Homo sapiens: one gene and its partners. The protein of the gene in region 2 purifies or fractionates together with the protein of the main gene of each other region. This does not show direct contact. Each region holds a gene or a part of one and is shown on either strand. Other genes may lie near its edges. The genes, in order: GUF1, SLC9D1, DCAF8, TAP2, DNAAF5, HEMK1 and FADS1.

What was found.
Region 1: the proteins of SLC9D1 (region 2) and GUF1 purify together in Homo sapiens (affinity purification with mass spectrometry; 2 studies listed by BioGRID and IntAct, with this or other methods). This does not show direct contact.
Region 3: the proteins of SLC9D1 (region 2) and DCAF8 purify together in Homo sapiens (affinity purification with mass spectrometry; 2 studies listed by BioGRID and IntAct, with this or other methods). This does not show direct contact.
Region 4: the proteins of SLC9D1 (region 2) and TAP2 purify together in Homo sapiens (affinity purification with mass spectrometry; 2 studies listed by BioGRID and IntAct, with this or other methods). This does not show direct contact.
Region 5: the proteins of SLC9D1 (region 2) and DNAAF5 purify together in Homo sapiens (affinity purification with mass spectrometry; 2 studies listed by BioGRID and IntAct, with this or other methods). This does not show direct contact.
Region 6: the proteins of SLC9D1 (region 2) and HEMK1 purify together in Homo sapiens (affinity purification with mass spectrometry; 2 studies listed by BioGRID and IntAct, with this or other methods). This does not show direct contact.
Region 7: the proteins of SLC9D1 (region 2) and FADS1 purify together in Homo sapiens (affinity purification with mass spectrometry; 2 studies listed by BioGRID and IntAct, with this or other methods). This does not show direct contact.

Annotation. Positions count from the first base shown.
Region 1 is NC_000004.12:44,691,697-44,695,769, reverse strand, and holds part of GUF1 (translation factor GUF1, mitochondrial), read right to left. Parts: coding exon 3,971-4,073; intron 1,359-3,970; coding exon 1,257-1,358; intron 156-1,256; coding exon 36-155; intron 1-35. UniProt on the Homo sapiens protein: Promotes mitochondrial protein synthesis. May act as a fidelity factor of the translation reaction, by catalyzing a one-codon backward translocation of tRNAs on improperly translocated ribosomes. Binds to mitochondrial ribosomes in a GTP-dependent manner.
Region 2 is NC_000013.11:113,546,240-113,550,312, reverse strand, and holds the end of SLC9D1 (transmembrane and coiled-coil domain-containing protein 3 isoform 1 precursor), read right to left. Parts: intron 3,014-4,073; coding exon 2,934-3,013; intron 2,011-2,933; coding exon 1,861-2,010; intron 889-1,860; coding exon 775-888; coding exon of another isoform or gene 761-774; 3' UTR 84-760; downstream 1-83. UniProt on the Homo sapiens protein: Probable Na(+)/H(+) antiporter.
Region 3 is NC_000001.11:160,238,357-160,242,429, forward strand, and holds part of DCAF8 (DDB1- and CUL4-associated factor 8), read right to left. Parts: intron 2,015-4,073; coding exon 1,341-2,014; exon of another isoform or gene 866-1,340; intron 392-865; coding exon 251-391; intron 1-250. UniProt on the Homo sapiens protein: May function as a substrate receptor for CUL4-DDB1 E3 ubiquitin-protein ligase complex.
Region 4 is NC_000006.12:32,831,826-32,835,898, forward strand, and holds part of TAP2 (antigen peptide transporter 2), read right to left. Parts: intron 3,949-4,073; coding exon 3,818-3,948; intron 3,535-3,817; coding exon 3,329-3,534; intron 1,000-3,328; coding exon 802-999; intron 637-801; coding exon 508-636; intron 1-507. UniProt on the Homo sapiens protein: ABC transporter associated with antigen processing. In complex with TAP1 mediates unidirectional translocation of peptide antigens from cytosol to endoplasmic reticulum (ER) for loading onto MHC class I (MHCI) molecules.
Region 5 is NC_000007.14:732,827-736,899, reverse strand, and holds part of DNAAF5 (dynein axonemal assembly factor 5), read right to left. Parts: intron 1-4,073. UniProt on the Homo sapiens protein: Cytoplasmic protein involved in the delivery of the dynein machinery to the motile cilium.
Region 6 is NC_000003.12:50,572,292-50,576,364, forward strand, and holds part of HEMK1 (MTRF1L release factor glutamine methyltransferase), read left to right. Parts: intron 1-1,079; coding exon of another isoform or gene 1,080-1,535; exon of another isoform or gene 1,536-2,409; intron 2,410-4,073. Other genes in the region: uncharacterized protein C3orf18, read right to left, coding at 1,080-1,535. UniProt on the Homo sapiens protein: N5-glutamine methyltransferase responsible for the methylation of the glutamine residue in the universally conserved GGQ motif of the mitochondrial translation release factors MTRF1, MTRF1L, MRPL58/ICT1 and MTRFR.
Region 7 is NC_000011.10:61,810,128-61,814,200, forward strand, and holds part of FADS1 (acyl-CoA (8-3)-desaturase), read right to left. Parts: intron 3,442-4,073; exon of another isoform or gene 3,227-3,441; coding exon 3,116-3,226; intron 2,542-3,115; coding exon 2,344-2,541; intron 949-2,343; coding exon 847-948; intron 753-846; coding exon 624-752; intron 1-623.

The DNA of each region.
Region 1 (4,073 bases), on a different chromosome or scaffold from region 2:
AACTGGCTCAAGACCAAAAATGAATTTCAACTCACGTTTCTCTTGCAATGATTTTACTTCCAATAGCAGCTTGAATTGCTATCTCAAACAGTTGCCTAGGAAGAGAATCCTTCAGCCGTTCACATATGGCTTTGCCAATTGAATGAGCTTTGTCTCTGAGACAGAAAAATACAACTGTTTATATATCCTAAATAAGAATATTTCAAGTATTTTTCTAGGCCAGTTGCATAATCAGTGTAAAGGTGATCTCTTAAGGAGGTTCAAATGGAACTTACTTATAAATCTCTCTTACTCTCTGAATCATGAACAACTTCTCTGATTTAAAAAAGTAATGTATGATTACAGAATATTTAGAAATACAACATTAGACAATAGAAACTGTTCTTGATTCTCTTTCCTTACCCGCTGAAAACGGTTAAACATTTTGGAATGATTATTTTAAACAGTTATCTTTCTAATCACTTTTTTGCATTTTTTTGTATGATCAGTGTTTACGATATATTCTACCCTCTTTATATTTAACAGACATTTTTATGTCACTAAATATTACTCCACAAGTTTTAATGGCTGAAAATAACAATATGGGTGCTTTGTAATTCATTTTAACCAATCTGCTGTTTCTTGAACACGTGGGGGTTTTCCTTTTTATAATTTTTTTACAAATATAAAAGGGCGCGGTGGCTTACGCCTGTAAATCCAGCACTTTGGGAGGCCGAGGCGGGCAGATCAGAGGTCAAGAGATCGAGACCATCCTGGCCAATATGGTGAAACCCCATCTCTACTAAAAATACAAAAATTAGCCGGGCATGGTAGCATGCGCTTGTAGTCCCAGCTACTCAGGAGGCTGAGGCAGGAGAATTGCTTGAACCCGGGAGGCGGAGGTTGCAGTGAGCAGAAATTGCGCCACTGCACTCCAGCCTGGCAACAGAATGAGACTCCCATCTAAAAAAAAAACAAAACAAAACAAAAAAACTTGTTCCCAATTCTAAATCCATCATTATAAAATGTTTAAAACTTTTTTTAATATGGTGAAGGGAAACATTTCTATGACACTGTTCTTTTTGACTATTATAGCTCTGTTCTATTTTTAGCAGTCTAGAGAGAAGTGTGGAAAAAAAAGAGAAAGCAAAGTTAGTAGGGTGAACTCTATTTTAATTACCTTAGAAGTTTTTTAAATGCAGCTGCTCAAACAAAAATAAATGAAAAACATATCAAAAGTATTTTCACATTCCATGATTAGTTTCTATTGAACTTACTTGTGTACAACAGTTACTAGCTCCTCTACAGTATTTCCATTCAGTAGAATATCCATTTTTACAAGTTCTGCAGTCTGGTAGCCTGCATCTTCGTAATCAAAACTAAAAGGAAAAAAGTCCAAGTGATAAATATTACACTTCCTGAGAGATTACCTTTATTACTCTTTACTCTTTACTAAATGTCTACTTTCTACCGCATTACACTCCCCAAAGAGATATGTTTCCATCAAAATATTACATATACAGTTTCTTGTGAATGGATCTAAATGTTATCTTTTTATGTTTATTAAATCAAGGGCAAAAGCAAGGGGAATATGTTTATAGGGGAAAGGAAAATAAGCTGGTGAACCTGACAAAGAAAATGGTTTATTGAAGACAAATATCATGCCTTCCCAATGTTCCCAGCAGCTGGGAGGCTTCGGACAATACTATATATTATTAATGGATCATTTTCAGATTCATGAGTTGGGTTTCTGTTTAACTTTCTATTACCAATGACAACTCTATGTTTAAATAAATGCTATGACACTCATAAAATGCCATTAATAAATGAGACCTTTGGATTTCCTATTTGGCTCTTCAGCTTGCATCTCCCTTCACAGGGCTTTTGTGAGGATTAAATGAGTTAATACATGTAAACCAATTAGAGCAATGCCTAGTACATAATAAGTGTTTAAACAGAGCCTAGCTTAGCACACACAAGCACTTAGTTTCAGCTATTACTTTTAACAATGTGGTCAAAGCTTGTAATGTTAGTCAAAACAGACATTTAAATGTTTCACTTATAAAACTGAAGTCTAAAGAAAATTTCAATTAGGCTTACAAGTTGTCCCAATCACAGACAAGAATATGTATACTCCTATTGTCTTAATTTTAAAACAATTGGTGCCTGGACTTGCAAAATTATATTTGGTTTCTAAAGATTTTCAGCAGGAAGGTCATAAAGTGACAATAATACACTCTATTAACAGATTATTTTCAGAAGTACTGTTAAAATCCTTTCTTTCTTCAGGAAGCATCACTTATACATTTACTGTATGAAAGATACCATGTTAAGTATCATACAGAATACAAAGCAAATAGAGAATAAAACAGACATGGTCCTTAACTTTGAAGTTGTTACAGCTCCAGCTATGTTGTGGTCCAAAATATTAAAAATCTTAAAAATTTCTTAACTCATTTTTTCAAAAGAAATCATTATAAAAATTGTGTTTTTGTTTCCAAGCAGTCCAATTGATACCTAACCTCTATTGAAAACATAGGTATTCTAGTGTTTCCTTAGAATGCAGGAAACACATTTGTAATTCCAAAAAGCTACTAGTTGCTGTTGATTCTTGCCTCCTGGTATGAAATAAGTTTTTTCCTGATCTTAATTCATAGTCTATGATGACTTTCTGTTAAGTGTGGAATTGACTGCCTATGTAAAACATCCATCTTGAACATAATTACCTTAATGCTGGAAGCTGGAATATTTTATTTTTATGTAGTTCAAAAATAAATCATGTTCTCTCATTAAATTCAAAATGTATTTAAGTTTCCAAACGACAAGGCTTTTTAAGACCACTTATAATTCAGAAAGTAGTACCCAAATGCAAACTAAAATTGACAGACTTCTGTTAAAAATATTTATAAACATTAAACCTACTAATCTTCCTTTCAACTCTAGTAATTTTAATATGCCCCTCAATTCATTTTACTTTAAATTCCATTGCCACTTACTTGCTCAAGGTCTTGTCTGAAAGAAGACATAGAAGAAGAAAAAACTGGGTGACAAAGTAGAAGAAAATTCTCAATACAAAGGAACATGAAGATTCCTTGGTAAGAAGAATTATATATGCTAACTCTCTTCACTGACAAGATGATTAAATAAAGTTAAACTTCCAAGTCACTGTAGCATGTTTGTTAAACACTGGAATTTGTCTCTGCATGTTAACATTAACATTCATGCACTGTGTGGGAGTTTTATAGATGTCAATGTTCATTTTTCCCCTCCTGCTTCCCCATGTTTCACATCTGTTTTCTATATATACTATCCCGTAACATAAGATTTTAGGGCATAGTGAGGGTATCTAGAGTTATATGCCCCAACAACAACAACAACAACAAAAAACAGCCTCTCAGAATGCTATGCCCTGAGTTTCTTATTTGTTATTTAATAGTAACTCTCCTTTCACTTTTATCTGGCTTTTCTCCATGTACTCCTATGAGATACACAAAGGTTTTCGTGATGAGGACAACCTGTTCCTCAAAAGACTAAGTTATTAAAGTGTTCACTAATGGAGCGGCACATCTAACATTTTTTACAGACTGAATATGCACTTTTATTTTTCAAATGTAAATAGATGCTCTTGAGATTGCATAACATAAATATACATTTTAAAAGTGCCACTGAGGTTATGGTAAATTTTTGAAATTAGGTCTAATTCTTAACAGACAAGGAATACAGCTCTTCATGAAAAGGGGACTAACTTTTTTTGTTAAAAGAGAAATAAAAGTTAGATAATAAATCAAAGGAAACTTTTCTCCTATAAGCAAATCACAAGTAGTCTGTAACACCTATAAAGTTGTTCCAAGTCATTCTAACCTTAGAGTATGATTCTCAACTATCTTCAAGAAAGCTGAAATTACTAAATAAATGAAGAATTAGTATACCCTTGCTCATCAATATTTCAAAAAAGTTGGTCAGGCATCTTAGGTTCTCATTATTTTTTTACCTAGCATATCCAGAAGATAGGGATTTCAAAGAGTCATAAAAATCTACCACAATTTCATTCAAAGGAAAGAGATATTTAAGCATAACTCTATTTTGATCAATAA
Region 2 (4,073 bases):
ATAGCATGTTAATATAGAAATCATCTTAGTAAAAAAAAAAATTGGCTGGAATTTTGTATAAAGATAAGCTCAATACAAAAAAATTAATAAAAACAGATTTTAATAAATTTCAATTAATTATACCATGATCATAAATTATCTTTATTAAAGAATACATATTCTTGTGATTTAAAACCAAATATTTTAAGTGATATATCTAATAGAAATTGACATGAAATTATTTCATTTAAAAGTTACAATAAAAGGCAAATAGACATCCGTATTTGTCTCATTTTAGAAAACATAGGCTTTAAGAATCAAAAGTAAGCTTCCAAGCTCACGGCCAGGATTACAACTTCATATTACAGAAATGTTTAATAACAAATATTTGACTAACAGATTATAATTCTGAAGTTGTACATTTTTAAAAGCCTTTTAATTTTGCTTCTTTACTAAAAAAACTATGAACTGATGAACTCACAATAGAAAATTAATAATAATTTCAGGGAAAAAAAAAAAAGGCACATCCAGGCACCACATTCAAGGTGATCGGTAAAACGCAGTGTCCCGGGTCTACTGCACATAATCAACAGACTGCAAATAAACTACTCCGGAAAATTCTAAAATAGGACAAGAATATTCTGTAAAAGCCGGGATAACACGACTGCACTGACGCTCTGCTAGAGGGCTGTTCTGTTGCCAAGGTGCGAGCTTCCCAGAAGGAGCAGCTGCTGGCCATCTAAGCGCTCACTCCCCACAGACGCTTCCCTTCCACGGTCCATCATCTCCGAGCCATCAGAGGCTGGACCGTCTCTCCGGTCTGGGCACACACCTCGTGATTGCAGCTCTCCACAGCACCGGGGCGAGCAAGAGGCTGAGCGTGGTCACACTCAGTATAAGGAGGTACACCTGCAACAGCAAAGTGCAGAGCGGGTCACAGAGACTGTCAGGACTAGCACCTGCAACAGGAAAGCACAGGGCTGGTCTCACTGAGCTGGGAGGGACGCCTGCAAAGCTAGAGTCCTGAGGCTGAGCACAGTCACGCTGAGTGCTGGGAGGGATGCCTGCACGGGGGGGTGGGGGATGGAAGCTAAGCGCGGTCATGCCGAGTGCTGGGAGGGACGCCTGCACATCATAAATTCACTACTATCTCTTTAAAGCACATGGAAGTACAGCCAGAAGCTGAGGACATTGGGATGTAGGAGAGACTGTGATTTCAAGATCAGTGATGCATGGTTAGTCCTGATGGGCCACAGGATAACAGCTTTAGCCTGTGTTTGCCTGAAGGCCAACCCCGGGCCACAGTAACAAGCCAGCCTGCCCCACAGCTTCCCTGACCCTGGGGATGCGGCCTTGGGTCAGGCCTCAGGTGGAGCTTCCTGTAAGCAATTCTACCTTTCAGCAATTACTTCCACTGCACTCAACACCTGGACTTCTACCCGCCTCACACTTACACAATGCAAGGAGACAAGGCCGTGAGTCCGAATGCCCAGGGCCATCTCAGTGTCCACAGGAACCTCCACCCAGCTCTCCGGGCACACTGCCATTACGGGTATTTCACGTTTCTGGGGTGCTACTTATGTGCACACTGGCAGTTCAGCTTTAAAAAGTTAGTTTTCTTTCAGAAGAAATATCTGACATTTAATTAGACTTGTTGTAAAAGGTTAATGCAATAGTTCAAGCAGTACTAACTGCAACTTTCCTCTGAAAACGCCACATGCTGGATGAGCAGAGAGCAGCCAGGCCTCTGCGTGCCCCCCTGGAGGAGGACCCTGCCCCCAGGCCCCGCTGTGCTGCCGAGCCGCCTTCGCCACACCCGACTCAAACCCAGAGTGCAGCCCGTGCCGCCCGAGAAGCGCTCCGCGGGGGGAAGCCACTCACCTCCCGAGAGATGACGCCCGCTCTTCGCGCCCGGCTCCCCAGGACAAAGGAAAACTCGCTGACCTGGGCAAGCCCCGCAGAGACGATCCACTTGATGTACTGGCTGCTCCTCGGCAGAATGAGAGACAGGACCAGCGCCGCCAGGAGAAACTGCAAGAGCGGTTCATTACGTCACTGCTGAAGACTGGACCCACACAGAGTTAAACACACACGAAACAGAGAACCCAGACGAGCCACAGGCACGCTGCGATGGTCCCTGAATAACACGTCAAGTAGGGAAAGGCACAGAAGCACTCCAAACACCCGAAGGCACCAAATACACGCAAAACCTCTTAAATAATCCACACTGAACAATAAGGCAAAATTAAGCCTTTCGGTTCATTAGCAGAAAATAATAAGCCTTGCCCAAGCCCCCCCGCCCCCGCCCCAACCAAACTAGATTAATAGCATTAAGCGTGGGGTACTCAAGGTGGAAATTTCTTTTTAATACAGAGAGATGTGTGTCTCTGGGCCGAGCAGCTAAGAGCTGGTGGTGTGTCTTTGGGCCGAGTAGCTAAGAGCTGGTGGAGTGGTCCAACGATCATCACAGCTTCTGGCTCCTTAAAACGGAAATGACCTAAGTCACTGTCTATGAGCCAGAAAGCCACTGGTTGCTGACTAGGTCATCACACCTTCAATTAAATGTGGACACAGGCAGCTCGATCACTGGCAGTCACGGGGGACAGACAGAAAGTGCCTACACCATTTTCCAGTCTTTAAAAAGCATGTCTGCATCTGTCAGAGGAGGACGGGCTGGACTGCAGCCAAGGCCCGTCCTGAGGGTCCCAAAAGGTTAGTTCCCCCCTTTAAACACGCTCAATTCTGAAACAATCGATCACATGGACAAACCCAGACCGCCCAGCCTCGTCTACATCTGCCTCCCCCGGGGTCCAGTGGCCCAGTGGGCCTCCTCCGAGATGAGGAGCAGGGCCGGCTCTGCAGGCCCGATGTGGGCCCCACTGGAAACCAGGGCCACAGGGAGGGCTATGCTGAGCCTGCAAACTGCGAGGGGCGTGGACCCTTCCAGTCCATACCTTCATCACCACCACTGACAAGGTGAGGAACACCAGCACCGTGAGCTCGTACGCCACAAACGTGGGGAACACGTGGAGCCCTGTTGGGAACAGGACAGACACGTTACGACCGCAGGACAGCCTCCCCCAGCGCACACTATTTCTCACAACTTCAGTGTGTCACTTGCTTCAATACAGGAATTAAAATCCTAAATCCTCCCAAGTGCACGTGTGAAAGCAACAGCAAATGCTAAAAAGCCGCCCCTTTCCTGAGCGAACCGGGGAAAAGCCTGCCCTGGGATGACCTGTCTGATGTGGTGGGATCCCAGCTCCACTCCCTGCAACAGGCCTCAACTGCAGAGGACACAGCAAAACACACAGAGGCGGCACTCGGTCTGGCACTCCTTCAGGAAATATTCCAGCTGAGGTGCAGATGATCCCAGAGCCCACAGCCCCACAGTGCCCAGGAGTGCCCAGGAGTGCCACGCTCACAGGACGCCTGTGGTCAATGTTCCTTTCCTTCCTTTATTTGGCTCACACATTTTTAAAAACAATGGGAAACGTTGTCTCCACATATTTCTTCTCTCTGCTCTCAGGACTCTCGGACTGGGCTGCTCAGTCCTGCTGTGCTGCCGAGTGACGCAGAGGGGCCGGCGGTGCTGGGGCTGGACCTGAGCTTGGGCTCAGCTCTCCAGCCACAGCCTGGAGCTGCCCAGTGATGCATGTCAGCCCTCGGAGGAAGCCCGGCAGCCCAGAGGCCTCCTCTTGATCGGAAGGACCCAGACCCCAGGGTTAGGTGCACGGAGCAGGCCCATGACCTTTCTGCCGTTCACAAACCACTGTCTCTACCTGACCCAGAAACACAAATGTAAACACTGGCCTTTTTTCTCTTGCCACGACCCGGGGTTCTCTTGCGCTTGAGGGCTGCCTTCTCTGGCCACCCAGTCTTCTAGCCACGGCCCCTCCTCCTGGGTCTGGGTCTCAGAGCTGCCCCCTCCATGCCCACTCCCAGTGCTCCCCACGGCCCCTCCTACCCCGGCCACCAGCCTGGCCCCACTGTGTCCCCCTCATCAGCCCCAGCCCCACGGCGGCCTGGGGTCCACCTCCCTCTCTCCCCAGCTGTCAGCTGAGCCCCGGCCCCAGTCCTGCTTCCCCTCAGGA
Region 3 (4,073 bases), on a different chromosome or scaffold from region 2:
AACCAACTAGGGCTTAGCTTAGGGGCCAAATACTATGAATGCATGATCTAGGGACTTTTCAGATACTTGCCTTCCTAGGAGTTTAGGGTGGCTGCTTTTGCTCCTTTCTTAACCACAAATCTTAGGACTGAAAGAGGTGAGGCACATGACCACAACAAATGTGACACAATGGGCAGAGATAAGGGAGAACCTTGGCTGAGAACCACAGAGGATTTGGATTGCACAAATTTTGGAGCAAGGTCTTACTTACCTTGTGGGACGCTCCCTTGTGCTGGGCCACACGTTTTGTATTCTTGCAACACTGTGTGGCAGACAGTTCTGCTACTCGAACCTGCCCGTCACGGGCACACATGGCCAGAGTAGAATCACCACTGTTAGGAAGAAACTTGGCCTGGGGTGTTAAAAATGAAAAAAAGGACACACAAAAGAAATGAGAGAGGTAAACTTGAGAATAAAAAATACGATGATGACCTCAACTTACCCCCTTTTCTTACATGACAGCTGGAAACTTAGCTTTCCTACTCTTGTACAGCTGGCTAAGCCCAATTTCTTCCAGGAGTTAAAGGAAAGGGAGAGAAAAAACTTCCTTTGATGTAAGAGAGCATTTCAGTTGGCTCTGGAAGATTGAACTGGCACATGATAAGAGCTCAGATGAACTAGGACTGTATCTAGCAGAGGAGAAAAGGAATAGAGGAGGAAAAATCTACTTTGATTAAGAAAGTAAATATAAATTTGCTACAAAGAAAAAGGAAAATAGGGGGAATGTCAGGGAAGAAAAGAGAACACCCTTAGGATAAATGGCTGGTACCAGTACAGTAGATGGGGCCAAGGAGTAAAATCTTTCCAGAATAACAACAGTATAAGCTAACATTTATCAAATGTTTATTAAGTACCAGTCACAGTTCTAACTGCTTAGCTTCTATTGTTACTTAATCCTCATAACCCTATGTGTTATTAGTCCCATTTTACAGATAAACTGAAGACAAAGGTAAAATAACTTGGCCAAGATCACTGAGCTAGTAAGCAGAAGGGCTAGGATTTGAACTCAGGCAGTTTGGTTCAAGAGCCTGTGCTTATACTACACTGCCTCCTACCAGCACACATTTAATAAGCTGCATGCACCCTACCTATGAGGCTTCCAACAGTCCACATGCTCAAGGAATCTAGGGTTGCCAAGAGTCTTTCAGTGTATTTAGGTCATTAGGGGAGCCAAAGTAGGGCCATGTCCCGATATGTAATTCCTACAATAACTCACTATCAGCTCCCAATCCATGCTGCAGTTCAGATTTCTCTAACTCATGCCTGATTCTCTCAGTTGCTATTATGCTCCCTTGCCTCACCTGGAACACATTACTTTTGTGGCCACTCTCAAAGTCCAGTACTGGCTGCCGCCGTACCCAATCCCACACCACCACCTTCAGGTCATCGCTGCCACTGGCCAGCCAGGTGCCGCGCTGGTTAAAGTGCAGGGTATTGACACAACCAGTATGGCCCTCAAGCCCATGCTGCAGGCGGAAACGCTGCACAAAGACTCTTGCCCCACAGGCCTCATAGACAAAGCGGGCACTTGAACCCAGCTCCCGCTCCCGAAGGGCAGGGAGGGCTTGCCAGCGAGGTCGGGGTAGAGCTGATGTTTCTGAGGACACCCAGTCCTCTAGGGCCCGCTCATCATCTGATGAGTCCTGGTCACGGTTAGCCCGCTTGCGCTGTACACGGCGCCGAGGCTGCTCTTCTTCCTCCTCTTCTTCCTCCTCTTCCTCTTCCTCTGAGCGGTCATGGACTCGATTTTCATCATTAATGGAGTAATGACCAGTGTCCTCCATGCTGTCAGAGTCCTTATCTTCACCTGAGCTCTCTGTGTCTGTGCCTCGACTTTCTGTGCTGGTGCGGTTGGGGCCACCATCATCCCCAGTCAAGCTCAAACTCAGGTCTGAGGCCTCCACTTCAATGCCTGAGGATGTCTCCCTCCCCTCTTCAGCTCCAGACATCTCCTCTGGACTGCTAGACAGGCTTCCTGCATGTTAGTGAGGAAGGAGTAGAGGAGAGGGAAAAATAAGAAAACAGGATAGTGACCACCTTAGTCTAAGAAATCTTCACATCAAAAGACCAAAAAATGAACTTTGGTCCAAGTGTTTTCATTACAAATAATTACAGAGAGTACCCTCTGAGGGGAAATCTTGTAAAGGACAAGAAATTGAAAAGATTAAGATCAAATCCACACACATAAAATACTTCAACAAAAGCAAAGAATCTCAGGACAATCTAAGATTATATTAAGTTCTCAAGAGGCAAAACATTGGCATATTGTATAAAAGTGTGCCTGATACATCTACCATTGGCTCTGTTGTATTGGATGGGCATTTATTAAGTTATAGCAAATAATTAAACAGAATATAAAAAGAAGAGCCAACTCCAGCAAGAGCTAGCATAGCCATCTTCTTAGCGAAAGACGGAAACCAGCTGATAAAAATCACTCTTGACTTATGGATGTGGTGTTGCACCATTTCCTACTTTAAGAAAGTATCAGGCCAGGCACGGTGGCTCACGCCTGTAATCCCAGCACTTTGGGAGGCCGAGGCACGTGGATCACGAGGTTAGGAGATCGAGACCATCCTGGCTAACATGGTGAAACCCCGTCTCTACTAAAAATACAAAAAATTAGCCGGGCGCCTGTAGTCCCAGCTACTCAGGAGGATGAGGCAGTAGAATGGCATGAACCCAGGAGGCAGAGCTTGCAGTGAGCCAAAGTCGCACCACTGCACTCTAGCCTGGGCGACAAAGCGAGACTCCATCTCAAAAAAAAGAAAGTACCACTACACCTTCTGTCACCTAAATCCTAAGCTTCTTCCCCACCTAAGTTTCTAAAATTCACTAAGAAAGCAAGCTGAAGGGGTAAGTGGGAATTGTGATCATTTGAGTGGGTTCTTGCTCACCTTTTGCTAGTAAATATATTTTGACTTACTTCCATTAGTTTGAATTTTTTAATATAATTCTTAGTCACACATTTTTAGTCTCTCTATTGAGACAGTTTTATTAGGAAGCATATATAAAATTGATAAAAAGCTGGGCTACTATAGTGGTGCCTAAGACGAAAGTTCAGTATATTCTAGGTCTGCTATGCTGATAGTTAAATAACTAGGTCACTTTTATCGATCTTATCTCCTATAACTACATACTGCATTCTCTTAACTCACAACAGTCAAGTCAATTCCAATGAGAACTTGAGGAATGTTCTAAAGCCAATACAACCACAACTTCCAACCTAAGTCAAGGTGTGAAGAAAAAAGGGGAGAATAAAGATTTTAAATGCTGCTCATGGGCCTCCTTTCCTCAGATGGCTATAAATTTTATCCGCCAGAAGTAAAAGCTGTCAGGAAAGGCAGACCATCCAGTATGAGCTATTCAACTCCAATACCACACTGATGTTTAAGGATTCAAAGGTGGAGCACCTTATTGCCTAGTCATGTGGATTAGAGCAGTAATTTGTGAAGAGCTCTGAAGCAATGTACTCTTAAGCAAAACCCAATACTGAAAAAAGATCAACAATACAAGTGCTTTGATTCAAGCAGTAACAGAAGCCCAGAAGACATAAACAGTTCTTGCAGGCTGGGCGCGGTGGCTAACACCTGTAATCCCAGCGCTTTGGGAGGCCAAGGCGGGTGGATCACCTAAGGTCAGGAGTTCAAGACCAGCCCGGCTAACATGGTGAAACCCCCATTTCTACTAGAAATACAAAAAATTAGCCGGGCGTGGTGGCATGTGCCTGTAATCCCAGCTACTTGGGAGGCTGAGGCAGAAGAATCGCTTGAACCTGGGAGGTGGAGGCTGCAGTGAGCCGAGATTGTGCCACCGTACTCCAGCTTGGTAACAAGAGCAAAACTCTGTCTCAAAAAAAAAAAAAAAAGCCTCAACTAAGAGCACAGTATAAAACAACTGGGCTAGGGGCTGGAAGAAAAAGTTATGAAGTACAGAAATTTGAACCCAAGGACCACATTTGCTGAGCCTGTTATATATGCTACGAAAGTTTAGCAGTTACAGTTTTTTGAAATGCAGCTGGGCTTGAGCTTGGGAGT
Region 4 (4,073 bases), on a different chromosome or scaffold from region 2:
ATTTCTGGATCCTGATTTAAGCAAAGTATAATAAACACACTCATACACATATACTACATGGATACCACAAGTGGAAATTTGACAATTGACTATTTGATAAATTTTAAGAACTACTGTTAATTTTTTGGTGTGATAATGGCTTTGTTGTTATACACTTTTAAAGATGTTTGTATTTTTAAGAAACATACTGAAATATTTACAGATGAAAGTATACAATATCTTGGATTTGCTTCAGAATAATATGGGTGGGGGGAAGTGGCTGGGGATACAGATCCAACAAGATTGGGCATGAGTTGATCATTGTTAAAGCACAGGATGTATACATGTGAGTTTGTAATATTATTTTGTCTCATTTTTGGCATATGTTTAAAATTCTCCATAGCAAAATTACTTGCGGGTTTTGGTTTTGTATTGTATTGTTAAAAAGAACAAATAAAGCCCAAGGCCCAGGAGTCCACAAAGAAAAAGAGAGGGAAAAAAGGAGAGCAGGCTTGGCTTCTCGCTCACCTGCACATAGCTCCCCACGCTCTCCTGGTAGATCATAAAGGAAAGCAGGCTGCCCTGGGTGAGCTCCCCATCCTGCATCTGCTGCAGCCCACAGCTCAGCATCAGCATCTGCACCCCCAAGTGCAGCACCTGGAAGAGGAGAAGAAAGAGATGAGGCTGGGAATCTTCCCATTCTTTCCCCCTCTCTGCCTCTATGAGACTGAGCTGCAAAGGCCTCTAGAACCAGCTGTAGTTTCCTCTTCCCTTGCCCTCCCCCTTTCCTGGGCTCCTTTCACAACCACTCTGGTATCTTACCCTCCTTACGAGCAGGTACAAGGCGCGTTCCAGGTCTCTCCGCCAATACAGCTGCCGACATTGTTCAAGGGCCTCTTTATAGCGACAGACTTCATGCTCCTCGGCCCCAAAACTGCGAACGGTCTGCAGCCCTCCAACGGCTTCCCGCACCACCTGCCCCGCCCTGGCCACTGCATCCTGGATCTCCCGAAGCACTTCCTGGAAAAGAGGGCCAGCAAACACCAGGGCTGATGTGCAAAGACAGCAGGCCCCCACATCTTACTCCAGCCAGTGAGATGCTCCCTAGTCTACCTAAAAATACCAAACTGTTTCTCTCCCTCTTCCTTACTCTTCTTTCCAGAAGGAATAAGAGTGAAGGAGCAAGGGAACAAAATATTATTGAGCTCTCAGTGTTAGGTAGTATAGGAGATACATGCAATTTTTTTAACCTTCATTTGAGGTAATTTTCCCATCCCCAGTGTCTGAATCAGGAAAGAAGGGTAGTTTTCCCAAGGAGCCACAGATAGTTAAGAAAGGTGGAGATGTAATTCCAAATGGATCAGAGGCCTAAACATAAGAGCTAACACTATAAAACTCCTAGGAAAATGTAGAAGAAAAGCCTCATGCCACTAGATTTGGCAGTGATTTCTTGGATATAACACCAAACGCACAGGCAACAAAAAATAGATAAATCAGACTTCATCAGAATTTAAAACGTTTGTGCATCAAAGAACTCTAGCAACAGAGTGAAAAAGCAACCATGAAATACAAGAAAATATTTGTGAATCATATATCTGATAGGAAATTAATAGGCAAAACATATAGTGAACTCCCACAACTTAAAAAAAAATCAGAAAATGGGCAAAGAACTTGCAGACATTCTTTCAAGAAAGAAACATAAGTGGCCAAAATCACACGAAAAGATGCTCAATATTTACTAATCATTAGGGAAATGCAAATCAAAACCACAATGAGATAATCCTAATCACCTAATCACCATTAGAATGGCTATTAAAAAAAAAGACAACAGAAAGTGGTGTTGATGAGGATGTGGAGAAATTGGAAACCTTATGCACTGCTGGTGGGAATTTAAAATGGTGCTGCCGCTATGGAAAACTGTATGGTGGTTTGATACGATCTGGCTGTGTCCCTACCCATATCTGATCTTGAATTCCCATGTGTTGTGGGAGGGACTGGGTAGGAGGTAATTGAATCATGAGGGCAAGTCTTTCCCATGCTGTTCTTGTGATATTGAATAAGTCTCACGAGATATAATGGTTTTAAAAAGGGGAATTCCCCTGCACAAGCTGTCTTTTCTCTTGTCTGCTGCCATGTGAAATGTGTCTTTCACCTTCCGCCATGATTTGAGGTCTTCCCAGCCACATGGAACTGTAAGTCCAATAAACCTCTTTCTTTTGTAAATTGCCCAATCTTGGGTATGTCTTTATCAGCAGCGTAAAAATGGACTAATACATGGTTCCTCAAAAATTGTTAAATAGAATTGCCATATGATCCAGCAGCTCCACTTCTAAGTATATACCCAAAAGAACCAAAAGCAGGGTTTCAAACAGGTGTACACTCATGTCCACAGCAGCATAATTCACAACAGCCAAAAGGTGGAAACAACGCAAATGTCCATTGACAGATGAATGGATAATCAAAATGTGATATATGCACACAACAGAATATTATTCAGCCTTAAAAGGGAGGAAATTCTAACACATGCTACAATATGGATGAGGCCTGAAGACATTACGCTAAGTAAAATATGCCAGTCACAAAAAGACAAATACTGTATGGTTCCACTTACGTACCGCACCGGGAGTCATCACAATTCATGGAGACAGAAGGTACAATGGAGGTTGCCAGCGGCCAGGGGTTGGGGGTAGTAGGCAGTTACTATTTAGTGGGTACAGAGTTTCATTTTAGGAAGATGAAAAAAGTTCTGGAGATGGATGGTGATGATGGTTACCCAATAACAATGTGGGTTTCCTAAATGTCACTGAACTGTACACTTCAAATGGTTGAAATGGTAAATTTTATGTTATGTATGTTTTACCACAATATAAGAGAAAAAGAGAAGGTGGAGCTGACATTCAGACTTAGGACTTCCTGATGACGCCTCCTTTCCCTATGCTGCATCCAGACTTCTTCTGCTGATTTTAAAGGGAAAATCTCCCTGCCTAAAAGCCTCTAAGAAACCATTTTTAATCTTCGCAGTGGGGGCGGGGGATGTACAGACTCCTTTGAGAAGCTAATGAAAAGTTATCATCGCCTATCATCTCCCCTTCCTATTCCCTCCCCCATACCTTCACATACACTTTACATTTTTGTTTACAGTTCTGGAGAATCATGAATCTTCTGAAGTCAAATATCCATTGTTGGATGGCTGGACAAACAAAATGTAGTATATACTACAATATACCTTCTCCCCTAATGGCTGAGAAGAGAACATCTCTCTCTAGGGGATCCTCTAGCCACAAATGTGGAAGCCTCCTCACCTGTCAGTTTTATTCTCCCTTTGGGGTTCCCTTACATGCACGCTCACCTGATGGCGGGTGTTGTACACCTTCTCCGCTGCTATTGTGAAGGGCATGTGCAGCAGAGAAAGGAGGGTGAGTCGAGGCGATATGCTGAGCATGAAGCCATACAGCCCCACCACTTTCACCAGGCTTCGCAAGAGCACATTGGCATTTAAAGGAAGCCAGTTACTCATCAGGGTGGTATCCGAGCTCAGCCGTGAGTTCAGCTCCCCTAAGAAGGACAGAGCAGGTGAGGAAAAAGGAAACCATGTGTACTGCAGGGCCCCCAGAAACTCCCTCCTGACCGTTCCCTCTGACACAGCCCCCTCCTCTGAACATCCTCCTTCACTTGCAGAGGGACAGTGGAGGCTGCTTCTCCACCCTGTCCCAAACAAGAGAAAAGCATCCCCAAGTCCTGGCATACGGGTGAAGGCAGGAGGAGAGGCTGTGGGTGGAAGGTCACTGAGGGGCAAGGGATGTCCATGGGAATCTCAGACCTGGACTCCAGGCCCCACCTGTCTTAGTCTCCTGGAAGAAACCGAGGTCCTGGCGCAGCAGGGAGGAGAAAAGCTGCTCCCGGATCCGCAAGTTGATTCGAGACATGGTGTAGGTGAAGCAGCCTCCTCGGCAGCCTGCAGACAGTGAGCTGTGGGGTAGGAGAATAAGAGGGGAGGGAGATGCAGAGAAGGAGCAAGCCAGCGGGTGAAACAGAGGAGCAAGCCAGGAGTGCAGAGAAGCGCAAAGTCAGGGGAAAGCATGCCAGGAGGGGCA
Region 5 (4,073 bases), on a different chromosome or scaffold from region 2:
GCCTCATGGTAACTTCAAATAAAAAACGCCACAACAGATACACACACACACAAAAAAGAAATTAAAACATACCGCCAGAGAAAATCATCTTCATAAAAAGGAAAACAAGAAGGCAAGAAGGAAGGAAGAGCAGACCACGAAACAACCAGAAAACAACAAAACGGCAGGAGTAAGTCCTTACTTATCAATAACAACATTGAACGTAACCAGACTAAACTCTCCATTCAAAAGACAGAGCGGCTGAATGGGTAAAGAAAAACAGGACCCAGCAATCTGTTGCCTACAAGAAATACACGTCACTAAAAAGGCACACGTAGGCTGAAAATAAAGGGATGCGAAAAAAGATATTCCATACAAATGGAAAGCAAGAAAGAGCAGGAATAGCTACACTTAAGACAAAACAGATTTCAAGACGAAAACTATACTAAGAGACAAAGGTCATCATATAATGATAAAGGGGTCAACTCAGCAAGAGGATATAACAACTTTAAATATATATGCACCCAACACTGGAGTATCCAGATATATAAACCAAATATTACTAGAGCTAAAGAGAGAGACAGACTCCAACACAGTAACAGCTAGAGGCTTCAATGCCCCACTTCCAGTACTGGACAAATCATCCAGAGAGAAAATCAACAAAGAAACATCAGACTTAATCTGTACTATAGATCTAATGGACCTCATAGGTATTTATAGAACATTGCATCCAACAGCTACAGAATACACATTCTTCTCCTCAGCACACAGATCATTTTCAAGGACAGACCATATGTTAGGCCACGAAACAAGCCTTAAAACATGAAACTAGAAATTAATAACAAGAACTTTGGAAACTACACAAATACATGGAAATTAAATAATATGCTCCTGAATGACCGGTGGGTCAATGAAGAAATTAAGAAGGAAATTTTAAAAATTCTTAAATGAAAATGGAAACACAATATGCAAAAACAGCAAAAGCAGCACTAAGAGGCAAGTGTATAGCAATTAGCACCTACATTCAAAGAGCAGATAACTTCAAACAGCAACCTAACACTGCATCGTAAAGAACTAGGAAAGCAAGAGCAAACCAAACCCAAAATTAGTAGAAGACAAGAAATAAGAGCAGAAATAAATGAAATTGAAATTAAAAAAAATACAAAAGACCAACAAAATGAACAGTTAGATTTTTGGACAAGCAAAATCAACACACCTTTAACCAGACTAAGAAAAAGAGAAGACCCAAGTAAATAAAATCAGAGATCGAAGAGGACATTACAAACAACTGATACTACAGAAATTCAAAGCATCATTAGAGACTGTGAGCAACTACACTGTGAGCAATGACATCGTGAGCAGCGACACTGTGAGCAGCTACACCATGAAGAAAACCGTGAGCAACAATATCAGCAACTACAATATGAGCAACGACACCATGAGCAGCTACACCGGGAGCAGCTACACCATGAACAACTACACCGTGAGCAGCGACGTTGTAAGCAGCTACACCATGAAGAACAACACCATGAGCAATATGAGCAACTACAATATGAGCAACGACACCATGAGCAGCTACACCGTGAGCAGCTACACCATGAACTACACCGTGAGCAATGACATCGTGAGCGGCGACACTGTGAGCAGCTACACCATGAAGAACAACACCACGAGCAACGGTATGAGCAACTACAATATAAGCAATGACACCGTGAGCAGCTACACCGTGAGCAGCTACACCATGAGCAGCTACACCATGAACTACACCGTGAGCAATGACATCGTGAGTGGCGACACTGTGAGCAGCTACACCATGAAGAACACCATGAGCAACAGTATGAGCAACTACAATATGAGCAACGACACTGTGAGCAGCTACACCGTGAGCAGCTACACCATGAACTACACCGTGAGCAATGACATCGTGAGCAGCGACACTGTGAGCAGCTATACCATGAAGAACAACACTATGAGCAACAATATGAGCAACTACAATATGAGCAACGACACTGTGAGCAACACCGTGAGCAGCTACACTGTGAGCAACTATACTGTGAGCAACTATATGCCAATAAATTGGAAAACCTAGAAGAAATGGATAAATTCCTAGACACATATGACCTACACAGATTAAATCATAAATCCAAACCTTGAACAGACCAGTAACAAGTAATGATATTGAAGCCGCAATGAAAAGCCACTGAGCAAAGAAAAGCCCGGGTCGCAATATTTCACTGCCAAATGTTATCAAACGTTTAAAGAACTAATGTCACTCCTACTCAAACTATTCCAAGAACTAGAAGAGGAAGGAATACCTCCAAACTTAATTTATGAGGCCAGTACTACCCTGATACCAGAACCAGCCAGATGCAATCGAAAAGGAAAACTACAGGACAATATCCCTGATGAACACTGACGCAAAGTTTCCACTGTTTCAACAGCACATGAGAAAGATCATTTGTCATGACCAAGTGAGATTTATTCCAGGAATGCAAGGATGGCTCAACATACACAAATCCATCAATGTGACACATCATATCGGCAGAATGAAGGACAAGAACTACGTGATTATTTCAAGTGATGCTGAAAAGTATTGATAAAATTCAACATCCCTACATGATAAAAATCTTCAAAAAACTGGGTATAGAAGGAACACACCTCAGTACAATAAAAGCCATATACAAGACTCACAGCTAGTACCACACTGAATGGGGAAAAATTGAAAGCCTTTCTTCTAAATCTGGAGCAAGACAAGGATGCTCGCTTTCACCACTGTTAGTTAACACAGTACTGGAAGCTCTAGCTAGAACAATTAGACAAGAAAAATAAAGGGAATCCAAATTGAAAAGGAAGATAATTATTCTTGTTTGCAGATGATATAATCTTACATTTGGAAAAACCTAAAGATTCCACAAAAAACCTATTAGAACAGATAAACAAATTCAGTAAAGTTGCAGGATACAAAATCACCAAAAAAGCCCCAGTAGCATTTCTACATGCCAACAGTTAACAAATCTGAAAAAGAAATCAAGAAAGTAATTCCATTTACAATAGCTACAAACAAAATAAGATACCTAGGAATTAACTTAACCAAAGAAGTGAAAGATCTCTACAATGAAAACTATAAGGCCAGGCGCAGTGGCTCACACCTGTAATCCCAGCACTTTGGGAGGCTGAGGCAGTCGGATCACGAAGTCAGGAGATTGAGACCATCCTGGCTAACATGGTGAAACTGTCTCTACTAAAAACACAAAAAATTAGCCAGGTGCGGTGGCAGGCACCTGTAGTCCCAGCTACTCGGGAGGCTGAGGAAGGAGAATGGCGTGAACCTGGGAGGCGGAGCTTGCAGTAAGCAGAGATCGCACCACTGCACTCCACCCTGGATGACAGAGCGAGACTGTCTCAAAAAAAAGAAAGAAAACTATAAACCACTGACATGAGAAAACTGAAGAGGACACACACAAAAAATGGTAACATACTCCATGGACTGGAAGAATCAATATTGTCCATACTACCCAAAATGTCCATACTACCCAAAGCAATTTACAGACTCAACGCAATCCCTATCAAAATACCAATGACATTCTTCACAGAAATAGAAAAAATAATCCTAAATTTATATGGAACCTCGAAAGACGTTGAATAGCCAAAGCCATCCTGAGCAAAAAACAAAACAAGACAAAAACAAACAAAAAACTGGAGGGATCACATTACCTGACTTCAATTTATACTACAGAGCTACAGCGACCAGAACAGCTTGGCACTGGCATAAAAACAGACACACAGACCAATGGAACAGAATAGAGAAGCCAGAAATTAAATCCATACATTTACAGTGAACTTATTTTGACAAAGGTGCCAAGGACATATCTTGGGGAGAGGACAGTTTCTTCAATAAATGGTGCTGGGAAAACTGGAACTCCATATGCAGAAAAATGAAACTGGACCCCTATCTCTCACCATGTACAAAAATCAAATCAAAATAGATTAAAGACCTCAATCTAAGACCTCAAACTATGAAACCACTAAAAGAAAACATTGGGGAAACTCTCTGGGACATGGCCTGGGCAAATGGGATCACATCAAGTTAAAAA
Region 6 (4,073 bases), on a different chromosome or scaffold from region 2:
GCACTGGGGCCCCATGACTTCAGGGACAGTGCCTTTCTAGACATGTATTTCCTCTCTGACTGTGTTGGCAGAGCCCAGAGGACAGAGGATTCCTGTTGGTCCCCTTGACTGTTATGTTCCAAGCTATCAACCCAGCCTCTAGGTCTGGCAATGGCCCAGAGTGCCTCAAATAGTGCTGCCCAAGTACTTAGCCTGTTCTGCCATTTCTCTGGGAGCCATCCCATGGCTCACCCAACCCACAGGGAACAAATGTCTTCCAGCAGCTTCTCAGGAGGCATGGAGGAAGTGGAGAGGGCTCCAGCCGGACACCTGGAGACCTGGTATCAGCTGTGCAACCTTGGGCAGGTCACTGCCCTCCTGCCATCTCTGGGCCCAGATGATGAGAGGGTTAGCCCTCCAGCCCAGAGAATCTGGTGGCCCTCTTAGGTCTACTGACTGGTCTGGTAATCACCTGTGTTGTCCCTCAAATTACTAGGACTAGGGATGTGTGGCGCAAGTGTGTTATCCCTTGGTAAGGCACCCTGGTCCTGGAAGAGACGCTTTATATGGCCCTTCTTGGACTCCCCTCTGACCTTGTAGATGACAGAGCTGGGAGCCAGAGGGCGCAGACCAGGGAGTAGAGCTGGGTGAGAGCTGGTGGGCAAGCCAGAGGGCGCCAGGTTCTGAGAAGGAGTGTTTCTAGAAAGACCTAGGCACACAAACATTTCTGGGAAAGGTTAGTTCCCATTCCCCTGCTGTGGCCAGGGGGCCCCAAACCCTTCTTTCACTTTCTCAGCTTCTGTCCCCTAGCCAAGAAACTCTCTGACCCCTCTCCTCTCCATATCATGTGGTTGGGAGGCCAGGTCCTTGCTTCACTGCCCAGTGTCAGGGCAGGGACAGTAGGGAATCTGAGGCCTTGCTGAAGTCACAGGGCTGTCAAGGAAGGGAGCATGGGGGCAGCACGTGGACTTCCTGACTCCCAGCTCAGAGCCCCATCCCTCACATGGGGCTGCCCCATCTGGGATTGGCATGACCTAGGACACAGTATGGAGACCCAGAGCAGGGTGTGGCCTGCCACCTGCAGACTTTGGGAGGCTTACCTGTGGCTCCTGAAAACACGTGATCTCTGGCGAAGAGATCATTTGCTGTCTCCGGCTTCCCAGGGTCAGGGCATGGTGACTTTTGAGTTCCTTCAGAGCTGACCTGGCACCAGCCATATGTGCCAGGGTTCTGAGTATCAAGTGTGGACTTTGGCTCCCATGTGGCCCCCTGATTCTTGGATGGGTCTGGGCCAAGAGAGCAGCTCTACTGCAAGGGGTGGGGTGAGGGGAGATGCTGCGATTGGGAGGCCAGGTGCTCATCTTGCTGTGCAGACATTTCTGAGAACTCACCAGGTTCACCCCAATGTAAAGCCACATCGGGGGATGCCTTACCAAGAACTCAAGAGGACGTGGCCTGTGGCAGGGAGTAGTGAGAATGGGTGCAGGGGATGGTTTCTGATGAAAGGGGAGTCTGAAGTGCAAACTTGCAGGAGGCATGTGCCCAGTGAGTTGCATTTTCCCTAAGGGTGAGAAGGTGGTTCAGCCCCTGGCCTGGCAGTGAATACAGTAGGAAACTCAGGGCTGGGGGTGTGAACCATTCTCACCCAGCCTGCTGTGAGGCTGTACAGGTTGTGGGAGGCTCAGTGTTTTGTCTGTGATTGGCTTGAAGGAGGCAATGCCACCTCCCTGGGTCTGCCCCACCAGGGATGCCATCCTAATAGAGGGTACTCATGGGCACTTAGGTTCTGCCCAGGCCTTGGGCCAGCCTCTTGATGGGGTATGGAGTCCATGTTGGGGCAGCAGTTCTAGGCAGAGCCAACAACTGCCTGCCCCTCACCTCTTTCCCGCATGCGTCTGTGCCCCACCCTGTTCTTGGATTCTTACCATATTCACCTGGAGGGGGTGCCCTGAGCCTGTGACCAGCATGGCTTTTAGTCTTGCCGAAAGAGCCACCAGCGTTAGGCTGAGGGAGGCTCTTCACTAGGAGGAGAAGAGAAAGTTTCTGGACTCCTTGGGCTGTTATCTACCCCTGCCCCAGGTGGCTCTACAACCAAGATGAGTTTCCGGTGCTCTGGAGTGTTATGGCAAACAAGAGGCCACTAGTGGTGGCAGGGGCTCAGTTTCTTAGCTTCTTACCCTCCCCAAGGTGGCCATCCACATACGTGGTGTGTGTCTTTGAGGTCTTTGAGTATCTCTGTGAGGTGGCTGGCCAGTGTGGCTGGCTGAGGGGTCATTCTCCAGCCAGAGTAGGTCTGTCTATGACCAGGAAACCAAGAGAGGCTTACACACCTGACAACAACTGGTCACCCTACCAACCTCTCAGCTTGTGGCCTCACCACTGAGACCACAGGCTCTCAGCCACAGCCCTATACTGCTCACTCTGTACCTGGCCCAACCTTGCAGGCTAAGCTTGCCACAAGTACCTTAGTGGTCTCCAGTAGTGCCTGGCACAGGGCTGGTGAGAGCTAGTGAATACACACTCTCTCCTGCTGGAACTGGGCCCCCTCACCCACAGGCAATCATTTGTTAGGTGCAGAAGAGGCTTGGAACATGGAGGGTTGGACCTGCTGGCCAAGTTCTGCCTGCTTTGGACTTGCCACCCTCAGGGTGGGTGAACATTGTTGCTGGGTTTGGGGGCCTGGAAGGGTGAGATGCTTTTTGGAACCCAGCACTGGGGAACTTATGTGGAAAATGGGTGTGAGTGATCTGGAGCCCTCTGCTCCATTGGGCCTGGCTGATGGCATTGGGGTGTGGGGGAGACCTGGGGGTGTGAGACTCAGAGGGTGGTGCCACAGAGAGCTTGCCCATCACTTAGAAAGTAGCCAAGAGGGCCAGGCGCTGTGGCTTACACCTGTAATCCCAGCACTTTGGGAGGCTGAGGCGGGTAGATCACCTGAGGTCGGGAGTTCGAGACCAGCCTGACCAACGTGGAGAAACCCTGTCTCTACTAAAAATACAAAATTAGCCAGGCACAATGGTGCATGCCTGTAATCCCAGCTACTTGGGAAGGCTGAGACAGGCGAATCGCTTGAACTTGGGAGGCGGAGGTTGCGGTGAGCCAAGATCGCGCCATTGTACTCCAGCCTGGGCAACAGAGCGAAACTCTGTCTCAAAAAAAAAAAGAAAAGAAAAGAAAAAAAGAAAGTAGCCAAGAGGTTTGTCTGTGGGCCAAGCCCTGCCAGTGTGGGACACACTGCGATGAGTCAGACCTCAGGTCTTCCTATTATGGCGTCTGGTGGGAGAGGCACACCCCATCCTTAGGCTAGACCTTAGGCTCAGGGTGGAGAAAGCCGTGGTAGAGCCTGGCCCAGGCTTGAGGAAGGCTTTCTGGAATAGGTAGTCCTCTTTTCAGATCAGGGAAGCACCCACTTGCTGCCCACCATCCCCAGCTCCCTGAGCCAGTCTTTCCTGAGACCTGGGGTCCCAGGAGTCCTGACCCTCTGGGGGGCTTCTCTGCCCACATCCAAAGGGATGCCTTTGAGAAGGAGCTACACTGCCCTTTCCTTGTCTCATGCCTGGCTACTCAGGTGTCCCACTCCACTGCTGGTTAGAAAAATTTTGGCCATTGGACGGCAGGAGCCTTCCACCCTTTACCCCTACCCTATGTTGGTTTACAGGCATAGTCCTTGCAGGCAGTGGCTGGGTAGGCAAGGCTTGAAACCCTCTTGTTTCCAAAGTGACAGTGTCTGAAAATGTCCTCCTGCTGCCAGGGCAGGTACAGTGCAGTCAGGCACCTCCCTCTGCACCCATGCCTGTTGACCTATGCCTGTGTATGCCACAGCCCTCAGGTCCTTAGTCAGGACCATGTCCCCCCATGGCCCATCTCCTCCAAAAGAGGGAATTCCCTGTCCCTTTGGCCTAGGAGCCTCCCTGGGGGCCTCTCAAGCCCAGCTCTGTGAGGAGGCTGGGGACACACCAGCTCCTGATTCTTGGCCACCATGAAACCACAGGCCAGGCTCAGGTGGGGCCTTGACCCCAGGCCTCAGTTTCCTCATGGGACACTTGTGAGGATTTAACAGATTAATACAGGAAAAACTCTGGGAGCAGGGTCAG
Region 7 (4,073 bases), on a different chromosome or scaffold from region 2:
AGCTCACCAGATCTCCACCCCCAGGCATTATTCCTTCAGCAGCTACATTATTTCTGCTTACAACTTCAGACGACATCTCAAACCCAACGCTGACCACCCAGGAAATCAGGCTGGGGATCAGCAGGGTGGGAAGAAGTACTCAGTGAATGAATGTTCCAGATATTGGACATGAAAGAAGAGTAAGACAGTCCAGCCCTGGACAGAGAAGACTGTGACAAGAAGGATACCTAAGTGTGGGAGAGAAATACAAAGTGCAAGGGGAATACTTGCCTGGGGCAAGAGTGTCAAAAAAGCACCTCCAGGAGGTGCCATCAGCACCTTCAAGGATAGGCTATCTCATCATTTGGATCCTTCTGGTCATCCGCTGGATCCTTTGCAAAATGAGGTGCCTTTTATGCAGTAACGGTTTGCTGACTGAACTCTCTAGGGAGGATGGTGACTCCCTCCTGGGCAGCCCCCATCTATTGCCTGTTGCCTTCCAGAACTTCCAAAATGGCAAAAGCCCCAGCCAGCCCAGCCCCAGTGTCTTGCCCACACTGACAACATCGTGGGCATCTTCCCCAACTCCCCTATGTTGGCTGCCTCCTATTCCCCAAGACCTTTCCACTGATACCTCCACGCACCTCCACAGAGAGGATCTTCCCCAAGGCAAAGAAGAAGGGATGCATGTTGATGTCTGGGTCTTTGCGGAAGCAGTTGGGCTTGGCATGGTGCTGGAAGTGCATGTGGTTCCACCAACTGGCGGGGGCCCCCTACAGAAAAGCAGGGACACGAGTATGAAAAGCTTCCCCCAAGGCAGCCCTTCATTGCCTGGAGTTTTAGAGAGCTCCTCCCCATCCCACTGACCTTCAGGTGGCCAATCACAAAATGATGTAGCAGATGGTTCCACTTTGAGGTGCTGAAGACCGACAGGTGCCCAAAGTCATGCTGCAGCCAGCCAGCCTGGGCCTAGGTGAGAAGAGTCAACACTGAGAGCAGCCCACCAGCCCCAGTGTCGCCTTCACTGACCTCGATGCCTCCTTCAGCCTCTCCCACTTCCTTCATCTGCCAAGGCCTGTGATGCACCTCAGGAGTCAGGAAACATGGGTCCTAGTTCTGCCTCTGCCACTGACTCACACGTGAGTTGGGGCAAATCACCATCCCTTCTCTGTTCTTCTGTTTCGCCAGCTCCGAAGCTCATGACTTTTTTTTTTTGAGACAGTTTTGTTCTTGTTGCCCAGGCTGGAGTGCAATGGTGCGGTTTCAGATCACTGCAACCTCCGCCTCCTGGGTTCAAGTAATTCTCCTGCCTCAGCCTCCCAAGTAGCTGGGATTACAGGTGCCCGCCACCAAGCCTGGCTGATTTTTTTGTATTTTTAGTAAGAGTCGAGGTTTCACCATGTTAGCCAGGCTGGTCTCGAACTCCTGACCTCAGGTGATCTGCCCACCTTGGCCTCCCAAACTGCTGGGATAACAGGCGTGAGCCACCATACCTGGCCTGTTTTGAGAGTGTCGCTCTGTTGCCCAGGCTGGAGTGCAATGGTGCCAACTCGGCTCACTGCAACCTTCGCTTCCCAGGTTCAAGCAATTCTCCTGCCTCAGCCTCCCATGTAGCTGGGATTACAGGCACCCACCACCACTCCCAGCTAACTGTTGTATTTTAATAGAGACGGGGTTTCACCATGTTGGCCAGGTGGTCTTGAACTCCTCACCTCAAATGATCTGCCCATCTTGGCCTCCCAAGGTACTGGTATTACAGGCGTGAGCCACTGTGCCTGGCCTTTTTGTATTTTTAGTAGAGGTTTCACCACGTTGGCCAGGCTGGTCTTGAACTGAGATCAAGTGATCCGGCCACCTTGGCCTCCCAAAGTGCTAGGATTACAGACATGAGTCACCACACCTGGCCTGAAGCTCATGACTTATGATGGACTGACATCTAGAATACAGAAAGGACTGAAACATGAGCAGAAGGCTTGCCAAATGGGTCCTGACAGTCAAGAATTAGCGCTCAATCATTATTAACATATTGGGCAATGTCAGTGGTGGGGAGGGAGCCAAGCTTTGCTAAGAAACCAGAAACTTGGCTCCTGGCACAGGTGGGCTGTGGCAGAGAACAAACCGCATAGGAAGAAGAGAACCCTTGGAGAAGCAGCTAAAAAGGCAGTGAGAGAAATGAAGATGTCCATGTGGCTAAAGAGCAGACAGGTCAAGACAGCAGAATGCATGTTCCTGCACTCACTCCTGCATACCTTCAGATCTGCCCTGCTTGGAGGGCAGGCACTCTTGGCCTTCCTCAAACACCCAAGGAGCTTTCCCCAGGGATGCTGAGCATTGCTGTGCACTTGACAAGCCAAAGGCTCTCACCTGAACTGCACTGAGCAGCACCGCACAGAGGAGGAAGGGCAAAAAGGACGTCCCAAAGACCCAAAGGGTGAGCCAGGCTGCACCATCCAGCAGCAAGATGTGCAGCAGGTACAGCAGGAAGAAGACATGGTTGGCCTTCATGAGCCCCATCCGCTCCACTGTGGCCCGCAGCTCCCGGAACTCATCTGTCAGCTCTTTCTGCAGAAGAGGAAGAGGAGCTGTTATTCTTCTCATCTGCACCCCAATGCTACTGGAGACAAGGGCCCTCTCAGGCTCAAGGACCTCCCACTGAGGTAGCTGTGGGAAGTCCACAGTCCTAGGCAAAGATACCACGACAATGAGGATGACAGGAGGAGGTGCCATGGGATAGTGCCTAAGAGTTCAGGGGACTAAGTCCTTGCTCTGCCATTTACTAACTGTGTGATCCTTGGCTGTGTTGCTTAACCTCCCTGAGCCTGTTATCTCATCTGTAAATGTGTAAGAGTTATGAGTTTATGCTTGGTGCATAGTAAGTGCTCATATGATAACAATGATGATAACAATGATGGCAGCCATGGTAGTGGCAGCCTTGGGGGAGCCATAGGTTGCAAAGCCATGCTCCCTTGGGCCTGTGACCTCATGACTATGCAAGAGAAGCAGGGACCTCAAGACTCCCCAGAGCTACTACTGACTGTGATTACTATGACTGTGATCCCATCTAGACTCTCCTTCCACCCCCTCTCTGTCCCCCTCAACAACCAATAGTTGCGACATAGCAAACACAGGGTCTTACATTCTTGGTGGGCTCAAAGCTGGGCTGCTCTGGAGACAGTTCTCCAATCAGGAGAGAGTTCATATACTTCTTCACAAGGCCCTTGTTGATGTGGAAGGCCACAAAGGGATCCTGCAAGTGCCGGGAGAAGATGAAAGGTGAGGGAGCCAGCCCCCTGGACTCCGGCAGTGTTCGCACCAAAGGCCATCCTCCTGCCCGCCAGAAGGCTGTACCCAAGTTGAAGTGAGAGGTGAAGCCAGATGGACTTCCTGGGTCGAGTGCAGACTTGGAGAACTTTTCTGTAGCTAGAGGTTTGTAAAATGCACCAATCCGTGCTCTTTAGCTAGCTAGAGGTAAAATGGACCAATCAGCACCCTGTAAAATGGACCAATCAGTGCTCTATAAAATGGACAAATCAGCAGGACATGGGCAGGGACAAATAAGGGAATAAAAGCTGCTCCCGGCCGGGCGCGGTGGCTCACGCCTGTAATCCCAGCACTTTGGGAGGCCAAGGCGGGTGGATCACGAGGTCAGGAGATCGAGACCATCCTGGCTAACACAGTGAAACCCCGTCTCTACTAAAAATACAAAAAATTAGCCGGGCGAGGTAGCGGGCGCCTGTAGTCCCAGCTACTCGGGAGGCTGAGGCAGGAGAATGGCGTGAACCCCGGGGGAGGGCGGAGCCTGCAGTGAGCCGAGATCGCGCCACTGCACTCCAGCCTGGGCGACAGGGAGACTCCGTCTCAAAAAAAAAAAAAAAAAAAAAGGCTGCTCCCCCTCACACCCCCCAACGTCCAGCAGCGGCAACCTGCTCGGGTACCCTTCCACGCTGTGGAAGCTTTGTTCTTTGCTCTTCACAATAAATCTTGCTGCTGCTCACTCTTTGGGTCCACGCCACCTGTAAGAGCTGTAACACTCACCGCGAAGGTTCATGGCTTCATTCTTGACGTCAGCGAGACCACGAGCCCACCTGAAGGAA